Regions from separate parts of the Homo sapiens genome. Here region 2 is linked to region 1. Evidence: fine-mapped expression QTL. Tissue or cell type: whole blood. Region 1 holds a variant in brackets; the other region holds the start of a gene. All regions are shown on one strand. Distances are between the middles of the regions.

Evidence for each region. PIP is the estimated chance that this variant, and not a neighbour inherited with it, causes the effect.
Region 2: ESYT1 starts here. The variant in region 1 is fine-mapped to the expression of ESYT1 in whole blood (TOPMed, PIP above 0.99).

Annotation. Positions count from the first base shown.
Region 1 is chr12:56,058,399-56,066,500 of GRCh38, reverse strand. No RefSeq gene overlaps it. Among named protein-coding and RNA genes, the nearest start is that of ERBB3, 18 kb to the left of the region's middle. The variant G/A (reference allele first, on the strand shown) is at 3,953.
Region 2 is chr12:56,124,675-56,132,776 of GRCh38, reverse strand. ESYT1 (extended synaptotagmin 1) reads right to left here and starts at 4,510. Exons shown (of 31, transcript NM_015292.3): 1 at 4,068-4,510; 2 at 2,154-2,195; 3 at 1,852-1,986; 4 at 1,664-1,737; 5 at 1,461-1,533; 6 at 1,211-1,300; 7 at 973-1,028; 8 at 445-568; 9 at 180-356; 10 at 1-58. The coding sequence starts at 4,457. ZC3H10 (zinc finger CCCH-type containing 10) reads right to left here. Exons shown (of 3, transcript NM_032786.3): 3 at 5,263-8,102. RefSeq lists enhancers at 3,462-3,521, 3,702-3,801, 4,122-4,371, 4,177-4,838, 6,278-6,537 and a silencer at 4,572-4,641.

The sequences.
Region 1 (8,102 bases):
AGATTGAGACCATCCTGGCTAACACGGTGAAACCCTGTCTCTACTAAAAAAAATATACAAAAAAATCAGCCAGGCATGGTGGCGGGCACCTTTAGTCCCAGCTACTCGGGAGGCTGAGGCAGGAGAATGGCATGAACCCGGGAGGCGGAGCTTGCAATGAGCCGAGATCGTGCCACTGCACTCCAGGCTGGGCGACAGAGTGAGACTCTGTCTCAAAAAAAATAAAAAGAAAAGAAAGAAAAAGAAAATAATCCTTTTTGGCTTGATGCTTCACCTTCCAGAGTCACTGGGGTGGCAGCATCACCCCCATGGCACTAGGTGAGGGCATACTGGAGTGTTGAAACCAGGGTTTCGTTTGAATACTCATAGTATTTTCCTATAGTCCCTTCTATTTCTGTATGGTTGGTAGTAATGTCTTCATTTTTATTTATTTATTTTTATTATTTTTTATTTTATTTTATTTTTGAGATGGATTTTCGCTGTTGTTGCCCAGGCTGGAGTGCAATGGTGTGATCATGGCTCACCGAAACCTCTGCCTCCCAGGTTCTAGCGATTCTCCTGCCTCAGCCTCCCCAGTAGCTGGAATCCGCCCGCCCTGGCCTCCCAAAGTGCTGGGATTACAGGCATGAGCCACCGCGCCTGGTCTATTTTTTATTTTTATAGTATAGAGACAAGGTCTCACTATGTTGTGCACGCTGAACTCCAACTCCTGAGCTCAAATGATCCTCCTGCCTTCACCTCTCATATTGTTAGGATTACAGGCGTGAGCCACCATGCCCAGGCTTCATTTTTATTTCTTTTTCTTTTTTTTTTTTTTTTGAGACGGAGTCGCACTCTGTTGCCAGGCTGGAGTGCAGTGGTGTAATCCGGGCCCACCGCAACCTCCACCTCCCAGGTTCAAGCGATTTTCCTGCCTCAGCCTCCTGAGTAGCTGAGATTACAGGCACGTGCCACCACACCCAGCTAATTTTCGTATTTTTAGTAGAGACGGGGTTTCACCATGTTGGCCAGGATGGTCTCAATCTCTTGACCTTGTGATCCACCCGCCTTGGCCTCCCAAAGTGCTGGGATTACAGGTGTGAGCCACCATGCCCAGCCTCATTTTTATTTCTGATTTTAATTATTTGTGTTCTTTTTTCTTAGCTAAGTGTTTGCTAATTTTATTGATTTTTTTTCAAATAACCAAACTTTTGGTTTTCTGTTTTCAATCTGTTGAAAGCCAGTGGGTCAAAGAAGAAATCACAAAGAATATTAGAAAATACTTTGAGATGAATGCAAATGAAATCACAACATATCAAAACTTACTGGATGCAGTAAAAGCAGTGCTCAGAGGAAAATTTGTAGCTGTAAATGCCAACTTTCCAAAAGAAGAAATAGGCCAGGTGCGGTGGCTTACGCCTGTAATCCCAGCACTTTGGGAGACCGAGGCGGGCGGATCACCTGAGGTCGGGAGTTCGAGACCAGCTTGACCAAAACGGAGAAACCCCATCTCTACTAAAAATACAAAATTAGCCAGGCCTGGTGGCACATGTCTGTAATCCCAGCTGCTTGGGAGGCTGAGACAGGAGAATCGCTTGAACCCGGGAGGCAGAGGTTGTGGTGAGCCGAGATCACGCCATTGCACACCAGACTTGGTAACAAGAGGGAAACTCTGTCTCAAAAAACAAACAACAACAACAAAAAGTTAGCCAGGCTTGGTGGCACATGTCTGTAATCCCAGCTACTCGGGAGGTTGAGGCAGGAGAATAGCTTCAACCTGGGAGGCGGAGCTTGTGGTGAGCTGAGATCATGCCATTGCACTCCAGCCTGGGCAACAAGAGCGAAACTCCGTCTCAATAATAATAATAATAATAATAATAATAATAATAATAATAAATAAAACAAATGAAATATCTCAAATCAGTAATCCAACTTTATATCTCAAACTAGAAAAAGACGAGCAAACTAAACTCAAAAGTGGTAGAAGGAAGGAAATAATAAAGACCAAAGCAGAGATAAAAGAAATAGAAGAAAAACAAAAGAGAGTAATGAGAGAATACCACCATCCGCCTGTTTCCTCAGCATACTTCTTGTGCCATTTTTTTTTTTTTTTGGCGTGATGTCGGCTCACCGCAACCTCCACCTCCCAGGTTCAAGAGATTCTCCTGCCTCGGCCTCCTGAGCAGCTGGGATTACAGGCGCGCGCCATCACACCCTAATTTTTGTGTTTTTAGTAGAGACGGGGTTTCTCCAAGTTAGGCAGATCTCAAACTTCCGACCTCAGGTGATCCGCCCGCCTCGGCCTCCCAAAGTGCTGGGATTACAGGCGTGAGCCACCGTGCCCGGCCTATATTTTTTAATTTTTGTAAAATCACAGCTTGCTGCAGCCTAGACCTCCCGGACTGAAGTGATCCTCCCATCTCAGCCTTCCAAGTAGCTGCGACAAACAGGCTGAATTTTTTATTTTTTGTAAAGATGGGGGTCTCACTTTTTTTCCCAGGCTGGTCTTGAACTCCTGGCCTCAGGTGATCCATCCGTCTGGGCCTCCCAAAGTGCTGGGATTACAGGTGTGAGCCACCCCAACCAGCCAACCATTTGTCCACTTCTGATGAGTTTATAGATTTAGGCTTTGAGCATCCGGAGTTGTGACCATCACAAAAAGAGATACCGGATATTATGTGTCTCCTGATGGAAGAACTCACTGGCTGGGCGCAGTGATTCACGTTCGTAATCCCAGCCCTTTGGGAGGCCGAGGTGGGCGGATCACGAGGTCAGGAGTTCGAGACCAGCCTGGCCAACATGGTGAAACCTCATCTCTACTAAAAATACAAAAAATAGCCAGGCATGGTGGCGGGCGCCTGTAATCCCAGCTACTCAGGAGGCTGAGGCAGGAGAATGACTTGAGCCCAGGAGGTGGATATCGCAGTGAGCCGAGATCGTGCCATTGCACTCTAGCCTGGGTGACAGAGCAAGACTCCATCTCAAAAAACAAAACAAAACAAACAAACAAAAAAACTCGCCACTGTCTATGAAGTAGTCTTACCAAAATAATCAAATCTGAATTTGATCAAACCTTTCAATCCAATACCAATTTACAAAAAATCCATAGGACAGAGGAAAGATGCCACATGATCAGCAAAATCCAGAATGCAGGAAATTCTATAGGACAACAATCCATTTTTTTTTTCTTTTTTTCTTCTTTTTCACCTGGAACAGGGAAGGAGGTACAATCCAGTTTTTTCAACAAATAATTTGCAAGAGAGAAAAAAATATACCTCAGATGATTTCTTGTCTATTTCCCCTGAATAGCTCCAGGACAGGAAATGCCTGAGACAGTCATTGCAAGACTGCTGCTACAAGAATAAGAAATATTTTCATTATCTAAAAGCATATTAAATTCTTTTTAAAGAATAAAAAAATGTTTATATATGCTTAAAATGTATCTTGAAGGATACACAAGAAACTGGCTCTAGGAAGAGGAACTGAATGCAAGACTTTACTATACATTCTTTTGTACTTTTTATATTTTTTTCATGTTTTATGTGATCAAAAATAAAATAATTGGAAAGGAAAGAAGGAAGAAGGAAGAAAAATTTTAGACCAGTTGTGTTTCTCTATAACTTCTACCAAGCAAGTCTAATTCTAACCTCTGGTTAATCCCTCTTGTATATAACAATCCTTCAGATCTTTGAAAATGTCTCTCTTTTCCCCTTTAGTTTTCTTTTTAATTTAATTTAATTTTGTTTTATTTTATTTTATTTTGAGACAAGGTCTTGCTCTGTCACCTAGGCTGGGGTACAGTGGCACAATCATAGCTCACTGCAGCCTCAACCTCCTAGGCCCAAGTGATCCTCCCACTTCAGCTTCTCGAGTAGGTGGGACTACGGGTGTGCACCACCATGCTTGGCTAATTTTTAGGTGTTTTGTAGAGATGGGGTTTCTCTATGTTGCCAAGGCTGTTCTCAGACTCTTG[G/A]GCTCAAGAGGATCTGCCTGCCTTGGCCTCCCAAAGTAGTGGTATTACAGGTGTAAGCCACTGTGCCCAGCCTTTAAAATATTTTTATTTTTAATTTTTAGAGACGGGGTCTTGCTATGTTGCCCAAGCTGACCTCGAACTCCTGGACTCAAGGGATCCCCCTCCCTCTGCTTCAGCCTCCTGGGTAGCTGGGACTACAGGTGCATGACACCATGTGTGGCTCCCCTTACATTTCTTTTCTCCAACTAAACATCTCTGTGTCCTCTCATTGTTCTTCGAGTGACTCAGTTAATAATCCCCTCCTTGCCGGGCACAGTGGCTCACGCCTGTAGTCCCAGCTACTTGGGAGGCCGATGTGGGAAGATCACCTGAGCTTGGGAATTCAAGGCTGCAGTGAGTCAAGATCACACCACTGCACTCCAGCCTGGGCAGCTAAGCGAGACTCCATCTAAAGAAAACAAAACAAAACAAAACAACTTAGTAGGACATGGGCTGGATGCAGTGGCTCACACCTATAATCCTAGTACATTGGGAGGCCAAGGAGGGCAGATCACTTGAGGTCAGGAGTTTGAAACCAGCCTGGCCAATATGGCGAAATTCCATCTCTCAAAAAATACAAAAATTAGCCAGGCGTGATGTTGCACACCTGTAATCCCAGCTACTCAAGAGGCTGAGGCAGGAGAATTGCTTCAACCTGGGAGGCGAAAGCTGCAGTGAGCCTGGGAGACAGAATGAGACACTGTCTTAAAAAAAAAAACAAAAATCCCAAAAACTTAGTAGGACATGGACAATAAAGACAAAGAAAGAGGAGGTTTGGACAAAAGTGGGGTAGAGGTAGAGAGCCTCAGAGAGCAAGACATCATGTTTTTGAACACTACCAGAAAACGACAGACAGAAGAAGGAGCTCAGTCTACATAGGAAAGCCATCTGAAGAAATCTTTCAGAAAAATTAAATTTACATAAATGTGAGCAACAGAAGAGTATCGTGTTAAATTCCACACAAAGTTACTATAAGGAAAAAGAGAATTGAGGCCGGGCGCAGTGGCTCACGCCTGTAATCCCAGCACTTTGGGAAGCTGAAGTGGGCGGATCACCTGAGGTCGTCAGGAGTTCGAGACCAACCTGGCCAATATGGTGAAACCTCGTCTTTACTAAAAATACAAAAATTAGCCAGGCATGGTGGCAGGCGCCTGTAATCCCAGCTACTCGGGAGGCTGAGGCAGGAGAATGGCTTGAACCTGGGAGACGGAGGTTGCAGTGAGCTGAGATCGTGCTATTACACTCCAGCCTGGGGACAAGAGTGAGACTTAGTCTCAAAAAAAAGTTAAAAAAAAAGAAAAGAGAATTGAGAATAGGTAGGTTAAAAAAAAAAAAGAAAAAGAAAACAGATAATGAGGACAGAAAAAGATTCATGCCAGAGAGATGCTCCCAAAACAGACGAAAATCATAACATTTTATTTTAAAATGAGCTAAAAGACATTAAGAAGGTGATATAAAGTCGGGTGCTATGGCTCATGCCTGTAATCCCAGCACTTTGGGAGTCTGAGGCAGGCGAATTACAGCAGTTTGAGACCAGCCTGGCCAACATGGCAAAACCCCATCTCTACTAAAAATACAAAAATTAGCCAGGCATGGCGGCGTGCACCTGTAGTCCCAGCTACTCGGGAGGCTGAGGCAGGAGAATCACTTGAACCTGGGAGGTGGAGGTTGCAGTGAGTTGAGACGATGCCACTGCACTCCAGCATTTCAGAGCGAGACTCCATCTCAAAAAAAAAAAAAAGAGAGAGACATGAAAGAAGCTAGGCACTGTGGCTTGCACCTGTACTCCAGCCAGGGCAATAGAGTGAGACCTCATCTCTAAAATAAATAAATAAATGAAGAAATAAATAATTTTTTTTGAGACAGTCTCTGTTGCCCAGGCTGAAGTGCTGTGGTGCAATCTTGGCTCACTGCAACCTCCACCTCCCAGATTCAAGCGATTCTCATGCCTCAGCCTCCCGAGTAGCTGGGATTACAGGCATGCACCACCACACCTGGCTAATTTATGCATTATTGGTAGAGATGGGGTTTCGCCATGTTGGCCAGGCTGATCTTGAACTCCTGACCTCAAGTGATCCAAAGTGATTAAGTGATCTCATTAGTCCAAAATGACAAATATTGTAATTTGAAAAAGATTGCAGGCAACTGCCACCATACCTGGCTAGTATTTGTGGGTTTTTGTGTTTTTTTTTTTTGGTAGAGATGGGGTTTCACCACATTGGCCAGGCTGGTCTCAAACTCCTGATGTCAAAGTGATTCGCCTGCCTTGGCCTCCCAAAGTGCTGGGATTATAGGCATGCGCCACCGCACCTAGCTGACATATTTTAAATATTTAAGGAATAACAAGCCAGGCGTGGTGACTCAACGCCTTGTAATCCCAGCATTTTGGGAGGCTGAGGTGGGCGGATCGCCTGAGGTCAGGAGTTGGAGACCAGCTTGGCCAACATGGTGAAATCCCATCTCTACTAAAAATATATATATATATGAAATAGCCAGGCATGGTGGCGTGTGCCTGTAATCCCAGCTACTTGGGTGGCTGAGGCAGGAGAATCGCTTGAACCCGGGAAGCGGAGCTTGCAGTGAGCCAAGATTGCACCACTGCACTCCAGCCTGGGCGACAGAGCGGGACTCCATCTCAAAACATAATAATAATAAATAAATAAATAAAAAGGAAGAACAGGTGAGCCAAAGCAAAGCTAATCTTCAACGATAATGGGCACAGACAAATTGTTATCAATATGTAGGGACTCAGGGATTATTTTTCCCACGACCCCTTCCTGAGAAATCCACTAGAGAGTGCACTTCAGACAACTAGAGAGATGTCAACAGAAGGGCTGAGAGTCAGTACTGTATATTAGTTACTCATGGAAATGAGACTAATGAAGGTAAAAGAGAGAGTATAGTATGTAATGGCCATATGATCTGATAATGTAGACATTATAACCATAAAAAATAAGGAGAAAGGAAATAGCATTTACAAAAAAAGTTTAAATATGTTTTTAGTAATCATAATGACGAAGGTAGTACTACTAGTTATTCTGAGACTGTTTAATGTATTGTGTAGGATAAAACAAATAAGGAATTATGGAATGTTCTAATTCTCCCATTTCTGTGTCCGTAAGAACCATGACTCTTGATGGAAGAAAGAAAACACAGACTTTTTGTAGTTTTGTAGTCCCAAATTTGACAAACCCAATAGTAATGAGCATCTTCAATAGTAATGAGCATCCTGGTGCAGAGATGGTAGTCTCTAATGACCTTTTTTTTTCTTTTACAGTTGAGTCTCACTCTGTTGTTCAGGCAGGAGTGCAGTGACCCAATCATAGCTTACTGCAGCAATCCTCCTGCCTCATCCTCCCAAGTAGCTGGAACTATGGGTACATGCCACAGCACCCTACCAAGTTTTTTTTCACTTTTTATTTTTTTGAGATAGAGTTTCACTATTGTCCCCCAGGCTGGAGAGCAACAGCATCATCTCAGCTCACCGTAACCTCTGCCTCCCAGGTTCAAGTGATTCTCCTGCCTCGGCCTCCCGAGTAGCTGGGATTACAGGCACCCGTCACCATGCCCAGATAATTTTTGTATTTTTAGTAGAGATGGGGTTTCACCATGTTGGCTAGGTTGATCTCGAACTCCTGACCTCAGGTGATCCACCCTCCTCAGCCTCCCAAATTGCTGGGATTACAGGTGTGAGCCACCACACCCAGCCCCCCAGCCAAGTTTTTTATTTTTGTGGAGACCATTGGGCACTATTTTTCCCCAGTCTGGTCTCAAACTCCTGGACTCAAGTGATCATCTTGCCTCAGTCTTCCAAGTCACAGGGATTACAGGTGTGAGCCACTATGCCCAACTCTAATTATCATTTCTCATTAAAGAAACCAAGATTCTTGAAGAAATATGTGGAGACTGCTGGATGCTGGGGAAATGGTAAGATCAATGGATTGCAGTGAACGTGAAGGACACAAATTGTTGAGGTGGCATGGTTGAGTAAGTGAGCTAAAAGGAGATTATTGGAGATTTGGGGTTGAAATTTCTAAGATGGTACAGTTTTTGGTGATGCTAAGGTCTAAGTTGAGGCCAAGGCAGGCGGATCATCTAAGGTCAGGAGTTC
Region 2 (8,102 bases), 66 kb before region 1:
GATCCTTGTCGAACACCTCCACTTCAATCTCCTGCCCTGGGACCTCGTGTACCATCACCTGGGGAACACAGAAGGCTGAGTGTCTCATGGGGCTGCAGCTGTGAGGATCATCCAATCAGCATCTTCTCTCACAACCTCCTGGGGCTTCCCCATTTCACAGAGCTGCTCAACTCTCCCACCTCATAAGTCTCTCCCCACTGTGGGTTGAGTTCTTCATCAATGACACGACTGCAGAATGTCTGGGTACCCAAACGCACAAGTGCATATGGGTCTGACTTGCCCTCAATCAGGCCCTTCACATATTTGTCCTTGGAACTCAGCCCTCGAGCAGCCAGCAGGTGAATTCGAATAATGCCCTGGAGGAAGGAATCAGATGGTGAGAAACTAAGGACCCAGCAAGGGGTTCCTGAGAGAAGGATCTATCTAGTGGGGGAAAGGCCATACCCTGGGCAGAGGGGAACGCAACTGAGCCACATCTTGAAGGTCAGGCACAAGGGGCACCAGTAATCGGTTGGGCAACACGAGGAAGGCAGCAATGGAGTCCATGATCATGGTGTCAGAGAGTGAGCTGAATGGGGGAGTAGAAAGGAGTGGGTATGGCCTCAACTTCCAATTTTCTCCTAACCCCAACTATGTTTCCCACACCCAAGAGAGACCTAAAGCTGTAAGAAAGTCCTTTTGTGAAAATCCTTTGTGCTACTCTTCTACCCTAATTCCCCACCTACTGCTCTCTCCCTTCTTCACTGCCATCCCCATTGCCTTTTGCAGTCTTCAGCCCTCTGCATTCCCTTCCTGCTCCCCCAACCCAAAGAAAAATCACAGTATCAAACTTTGCAGGGGTATTTGTCTTTGCTCCCCAAATGAAGTTGAGGCTCCTAGAGGACACAAGCAGCATCTTTGACTGCTCTGTGTCCCTTAAACCCCCAACCCAGCGCTGGAACACTCAGCAGGTGCTCAGTAAGTCCTTGATACCTAAGTCCTGGGATATCCAGCAGGTTGGTCATCCCTGTCCAGTTGATGTCTAGGGTCTGGAGGGAAAGAGCAGGGGTCAGGACAGATCCTATGGGGTGTGGTCATACCCATCAAACAGTTGCCAGAACCCCTCGGCCTTCTTGTCAGTTCCCTTCTCATTCCCCTTCACTGGCTGCCCTCATCCTCCCAGTCCTCTGTTTCTCCTGCTTCCCCATACCCCTTCATTGTTTTCCCTTACCGGGCGTCGGATGAAGAACATTGACACAGCCCCCACGAAGGGAAGGTCCCCAATGAGTGGCTCCAGTATCACCCGCAAAACGCCATGTAGCTGAGGCAAGAAGAGAAAATCAAAGCCTTTCCCCAGAAAAGTCCCTCTTCTGTCCTCCCAGACTTTCTCAGCCTTGGTCTTTCCAACCTCACACTTCCCCATATCCCATGAAACGCAGGACAAACATTCCCTATTATGTGGCCCCTGACATCTGGCCTACCTGCATGCCCTTGACTCCTGCTTTGCAAAAATATTTCTTCACTTCCACATCAATCTGCACATCACCTACATAGCTGGGGATTGGTGAAGAAGAGAACCAAGAGAGTTAGTCCTTGGCTGAAGTTGCGGGGAGGGGGAGTGAAGTAGCCTGGACTGAACAGGACACATTGAAGGGGAAGCAGTAAGAGTGGTGAGTGGTATTACCTGATGTTCAAGTCCAGCAGGATCTGCTCTTTTCTCTGACCTGGGTGAACCTTGACTCCAATGATGCGCAATGGCTAGGGAGAGAGAAATTCCTGAGAGAGGGCAGGGATAGGGAGAAGTACCTGAGTCTACTCCGGGCCACTCACCCTCCCTAGCCTACCTCCTCACTTTCCCTCCTCCACACATACCTTTTCACCCAGTTCCACTCGTGTAAATGTAAATGTTTGCAGATGGGGGTTAGATCCCCTAACAGCCGGAGCCACAGTTTCAGCCAGAAGCTTCTCCATATACTGGCCCAGGAAGGGCCAGACCTGGGCCACAATCTGGGAGGAAAGAGAGATGGTCAGAGGAGAGTCCAGTCTTCCCTCTCAAGGCAAGTTCCTTCAGAATCCTCCCCACGGAGAGCACTGAGGGTTGAGGATGGGTCTGGCAAGAAGAAACAAATTCCCATTCTCCCCTCATGAAGACTAAAAATCAAATCAATCCTCACCTTATTGAGCCATTCAGCCTTTTCCACGTCTGGGAAGCTGACCTGGAGGTGGGGAAGGCAGAGACAGTGACGTGCAGCACACCCTCGCCTCTGGTTTCCTACTAAGATGCTGGTGGTGTGCCACAGAGGAGAGGGAGTGTGTGTGACTCCTCACACTCAGGGTGGGCGAGGGGCGAGGATGCCCCAAAGGTTCATTCCTCACAGAGTTTGGGGGCTGATGTCTCTCTAATAAGGGGAGCTGACAAGGTAGAGGTCACGCTGTTGCCCTGTGGATAGCTCAGGGACGTGGTGAAATGACAGCTGCTGAGAGAGAGAGGAGCGGGAGGAGGAGAAGGGCGCATTCTTTCTGGAGGGGGAGGTCCAGTCAAATTGGAGTTTGAGGGAATCCTGGGATTTAAAAAGTCCTGGTTCCAGGCTGGCCGCGGTGGCTCGCATCTGTAATCCCAGCACTTTGGGAGGCCGAGGCCGGCGGATCACGAGGTCAGGAGTTCGACACCAGCCTGACCAGCATGGTGAAACCCTGTCTCTACTAAAAATACAAAATTAGCCGGGCGTGGTGGCGCGTGACTGTAATCCCAGCTACCCAGGAGGCTGAGGCAGGAGAATCGCTTGAAGAGGCAGAGGTTGCAGTGTGCCAAGTTCGGGCCACTGCACTCCAGCTTGGCAACAGAGCGAGACTCCGTCTCAAAAAAGAAAAAAAAAAAAGTCCCCTTTTCCAGCCTTCTCAACTCCCCTCAGACGGGGCTTCTAGAGCAGGAAGGTGAAGAGGGAAGCAAGTCCTTCCTTGAGTCAGGGAGGGGCCAGAAGACCTAATTAGGCCTGGCTTTGTGGGTTTTTTGGGGTGTGTGTGTGTGTTTTCCTCTATCTTTCTCTGTGTGACTCCTTTTAAGGGAAAGGACACCTGCGCTTTGTATTGGGGGTAGGAAGATTGGTTTCCATGATGATGAGGAGGAGACAAACACTTGCTGCCTAGGCTACAGGTCCCCTAGAGCCATTTGGCCCTCTTTCTCCTCCCCTTTCCAGTCCAGGGCCTGGGAAGCTTGGCTGTGTCTGTCTAGTGTCAATTTTGATTCCTCTCTGCTGCCATTCTCCCCCTAGACTGGCACCTCTGCTGGGAGGGGCCGGGTAACCGGCTTCGCCTCTGCAAGACTAGAGAGAAGGCATCCGCCTCAGCACAGGAGACGCGGCCGCCGCAGAAATAAGGGTCTCTGCCCCAACGGAACAAGCGCAGCCCACAGTCCGGAAAAGGGTGTGGCCGGCCGAGGAGTGCGGGGGAGTGTGCGCCGCGGGCACTGCAGCAGCCGCACCACCTCCTCCCGTAGCCCTCCCTCCGTCCAGCAGCCGCCTCTGCCGCGCTGCAGTCTGGCGGCTGGAGGCTTGAAGGTGGCTGCCCGAGGGTCGTCCAGGGGCCGGGGCTGGGTCCTAGCGGGTACCCGGGGATAAAAGCGAGAAAAGAGAGAACCGTATGGCTTTAAGTAGGTAAAAAGTCTCGAGGAGGATGGGAAAGACTAGGGAAACCTTTGAGAGGTAACGGGACCAGGATTTCCAGGAGCAGCAAAGCCGCGAGTGGCACCAAAAGCAAGAGGGACGTTCAAGATGGCTTGGCTAGGAGGGAGAGCTTCGGCTGAGACGGGGTCCCCAGATGTTATTACTGCTGTTGCCCAAGTAGAGGAAGAAGTCCTGATTCTGTGGAAGGATCCAGTCTGGGCATGCGAAAGGGTGGGTGGGGAGAGTGAGCAGTCGGTTCCAAGAGTGGCGCGTCCAGCAGGCAGGCGGCTAGCGGGGAGAGAGGGGAAAGTCTGGGGCCCACTGTCCCAAGGCAGGGAGCTGACTCTAGGCATAAGGAGGAAAAGCCCCAGATGGAAGGGGTGGAAGGGGGCTATGCTGCACAGAGGACCGAGGGTGGTCGCTCACCCAGGCAGGTAGCTCTCGATGACTCATATAGAGAGTTTTCGCAGTGAGCTGCTCCTCGTCGTCCAGTAGCTGCCTCGCTGCTCGAAGGCTCCGTTCTTTCTCGTCGCGGACCCGGCGCCAGCCCAGGTAGAGGGCGAGGCCGAAGAGCACGAAACCCACGCTGAGTCCCACTGCCCCGGCCAAATACACAGGTATCAGCACCAGCAACCGCCTCCCGAATGAAGTCAGCACCGCCAGGGCCTCACCCGCCGCGCCAGGGCCAGCAGGTTGGCCCCCAGAACCTGGGTCTGGCTTTGCGTGAGCAGCGGGGGGCTGGTCAGTGGGGTCGGAGGGAGCAGAGGGCTGGTCCATGGGGCTGGGGCTGGGGCCCTCTCCTGGAGATCGCTCCATTGTGCCACCTCTGGGAGGATCCGCCCGACCCAGGGACTGGCTGGAGGTTGCCTAGTCTTGCGATCAGCTCCCCCAGGCAAAACGTGATCCCCGGGATGGAGGAGGGGACTTCAAGCCACGCCCCTCCTTTCTGGCGATTTGGGTTGGTCCGCGCTGCACAGACCAAGGTGGAGTTAAAAGGTTGAAACTCCACCCCTCTTCCGCGGGGAACGGACCGGGTTTCGGATAGGTAGGGCCTCCCTGATTGGGCCCGAAGGCCAAGATGGGAGGTCTGAGATGGCGGGAAAAGGAAGAAAGGGGCTCAGGGGCGGCATTCGATTGGTAATAAAGAGGAGGAGGCGTGGCGCACCATTTCAGGAGAGGCGGGACCAAGAGCTCCCCCACGTGGGATTGGAGTGCCTGTGGTATGACGTCATGCAGAGCTGCACCGCCAATTTCTTGGTTTTGGAGAAAGCCCAAGTTGCGAAGTTGAGGGGTTGTGGAGCTTCAGGATTTCCCTCTACTCATTCGGTTTGGCAGGATTTGGTCTGGGATATATATATATGTTCTTTTGCCGACTTTCTCTAGTTTTCATACTCTAAGCACATTCCTTATCCTTCAACTTTTTCCTGCCTGCCCTTACAAAAGGAAAGGATACGATCGTATTTGGAATGAAAGTGTTTGAAAACTAACCCCGTCTATCCCGTCCCTAATCCCCTACCTTCTTTGTGTGGTGTAACGACTGACCCTGGAGAAAACTGGAGAGTCAGAGAATTACAGAGTTGAGATAATCCAGCCTTCAGGGAAAGGGGGAAAAAAAGCAGAGTGAATAGAAAGTGAGGCTTTATTTCTTTTTGGAAATTTCCAAGAGTTAGTAAGTCATCTCTATCTTAGAGGATGGATGTAAGACTAGTTGGCTCCAAAAGGGAGGGAGGCAGCGCAAATTATTACATTTTCCAATAATTTTCTGACCCTGAAGAACTTCTAGGACACTAAAATGAGGGATCAAGAGTAAGGGAAAGACAATTCCTTTTCACATTTGCCTGAGTTAGAAGGAAGGTTTGCCATACAGTCAGGTGCAGAACTAGTGCAGTCCCACAGTGTACGGTGTAGGTTTAGGAAGGAAAAAGTGCAGGGTACACCGATGACTATTGTTACTAGTTAACTGGCGTTAGAGGTGGAGTGTTGTCCTAGGATCTAGGAACTAGACTAATTGGAAGTTGATGAGGGAAGTGTTGGTCATAAGATGATTACCTTTTAATGCAGTATATATGGGGCATATTATGTAAATCTGTCAGATGCAGCAGAAGAACTGGGGTTGATCACTGGGAAGAAACTAGCCATTTCTTAGAGGAAGTGTCTTACAGGATGAGGCCTGCAGCTGATAAATTTTATCTGGTTCTGCAGGGCATAGATTTCATCAGCCTGTGTTTACCAAAGCTGCTTAAAACCTGTCCCTGCTCAGCCTCTATCACTTAAATTTTTTCACTTCCTTTTCTCTACTTCCCTAGGGCTAGCAGTATCTTGACTGCTTCATTCAGTTTGCAGAACTATTTAAGAAACAATATTCTGTCTCCTATATCCTCCATATTCCCAGAGGTAAGCAGGTAGAAAAGGGAAACAAGGAAATTGGAGGAATTATGAGTGACCTGCTCACCAACTGATAAAGCAGAACTACAGAAGGAACATGGATGAACCTTAGAGAGAAACCTCTCTATAAACTGAAATTTGCCAAGCACTGGAGTAGGCAAGGAGGTTCCTGAGAATGGGGGAATGGAGAGGGTGACCTATGGAGGTTCTTTTCCAAACTTCTCCCTTCCTCACCTCATCCAGATCATCAGAAATTATATAGGGGATAAAACTTCATCCTCAGGAAGTTCTTGTCCCAGCTGGGGCCCAGGAGCCACAGGATCAGCAGCTGCAATGCAGTTACCAACACAAGTAAACAGGGTGGGTCCCCGCCCACTGACAATTCTGCTGCCCAGGTGCCACCTGGTGGTGATAAGCAGTAAGTGGACAACAGGAAGGGATGCCCATTTGTTAGAGGAAGTGTCTTACAGGATGAGGCCTACAGGAGGAGAGAGAGTAAACTTCCTGGACTTGCAATCTGCATTTATATGTAAACCATAATCACCTCCAAGAGGCAGAGGGTGAGATACGGTACTCTGATCTCAGCTCACAAAGATGGGAAGGGCAACAAGATTTGAGGAAACTCCTTCTGTATTCTTTATTCCTCAAAAGTTACTGCCAAGCCAGTCGCGGTGGCTCATGCCTGTAATCCCAGCACTTTGGAAGGCCGAGGCAGTTGGATCACCTGAGGTCAGGAGTTCAAGACCAGCCTGGCCAACATGGCGAAACCCCGTCTCTACTAAAAATACAAAAATTAGCCGAGCATGGTGGCATGTACCTGTAATCCCAGTTACTCTACTTGGGAGGCTGAGGCAGGAGAATCACTTGAACCCGAGAGGCGGAGGCTGCAGTGGGCCGAGATCACGCCACTACACTCCAGCCTGGGCAACAGAGTGATACTCCGTCTCAAAAAAAAAAAAAAAAAATTACTGCCAAGTAGTGATCGCTTTGTTGGATGGCTATATCATTAGAACTTTCTTTTGTCGTCTGGAGTGAGACTGCCTGAATAGATTCCTGGCCCCATTCCTTACTTGCAGAACCCTGGGCAGGTTACTTTTTAAGCCTGCTTTCTCCTCTGTAAAATGGGTACAATAATATTACCCATTGTGTCAATGAGATGTTGCATGTAAAGTGCCTAGCACAGAGCCTTGGCTTATATTAAGCAGTCAACAAATGCTAGCCGGCTGGGTGCGGTGGCTCAACGCCTGTAATCCCAGCACTTTGGGAGGCCGAGGTGGGCGGATCACGAGGTCAGGATATGGAGACCGTCCTGGCTAACACGGTGAAACCCCGTCTCTACTAAAAATACAAAAAGAAAATTAGCTGGGCACCTATAGTCCCAGCTACTCTGGAGGCTGAGGCAGCAGAATGGCGTAAACCCTGGAGGCAGAGTTTGCAGTGAGCAGAGATCGTGCCACTGCACTGAAGCCTGGGCCACACAGCTAGACTCCGTCTCAAAAAAAAAAAAAAAAAAAAAGTTAGCCATTATTCTAGAAATCCCTTTTTACTTCCTGTGTAGCAAACAGGATCTTCCTCCACTGGGCAGCCCTTCAAATATTTGAAGACTTCTATTTGAAGCTTTCTCTTGCCAGCCTTTTTTTTCTAGCAACACACTGGTTTGTCAATGGCCCTCTTTAAAAATTACATTTAGAACAACACACTACTAAGTGGTTACACTTAGGCAGAACATAGAACTGCTGTATTTGTAATCTATTACCAAGGTTCTACTACCCTTATGGAGCTCCTAGAAAGATGCCTAGAACATAGCAGGCTCTTAATAAATATTTATAAATGGACATCTTGAGGGCTAAGATTCTATTTTTTTGCAGCCAACTGGAAGTCCCAGTTTGTTCTCATGTGAATTATTGCTAATATAAATCTCTAACATTGTTCCTCAAACTAGTTCAAGATCTAAGCAATTTTTTAGTGTGAGAGTGCTCCAGTGTTTTAGTCAATTCAAGTTACAGACACTTTGAATATTATTTAGCTCTTCCTGTGTTACTGTTGATAAATGGGTTTTTTACATGTTTACCCGAG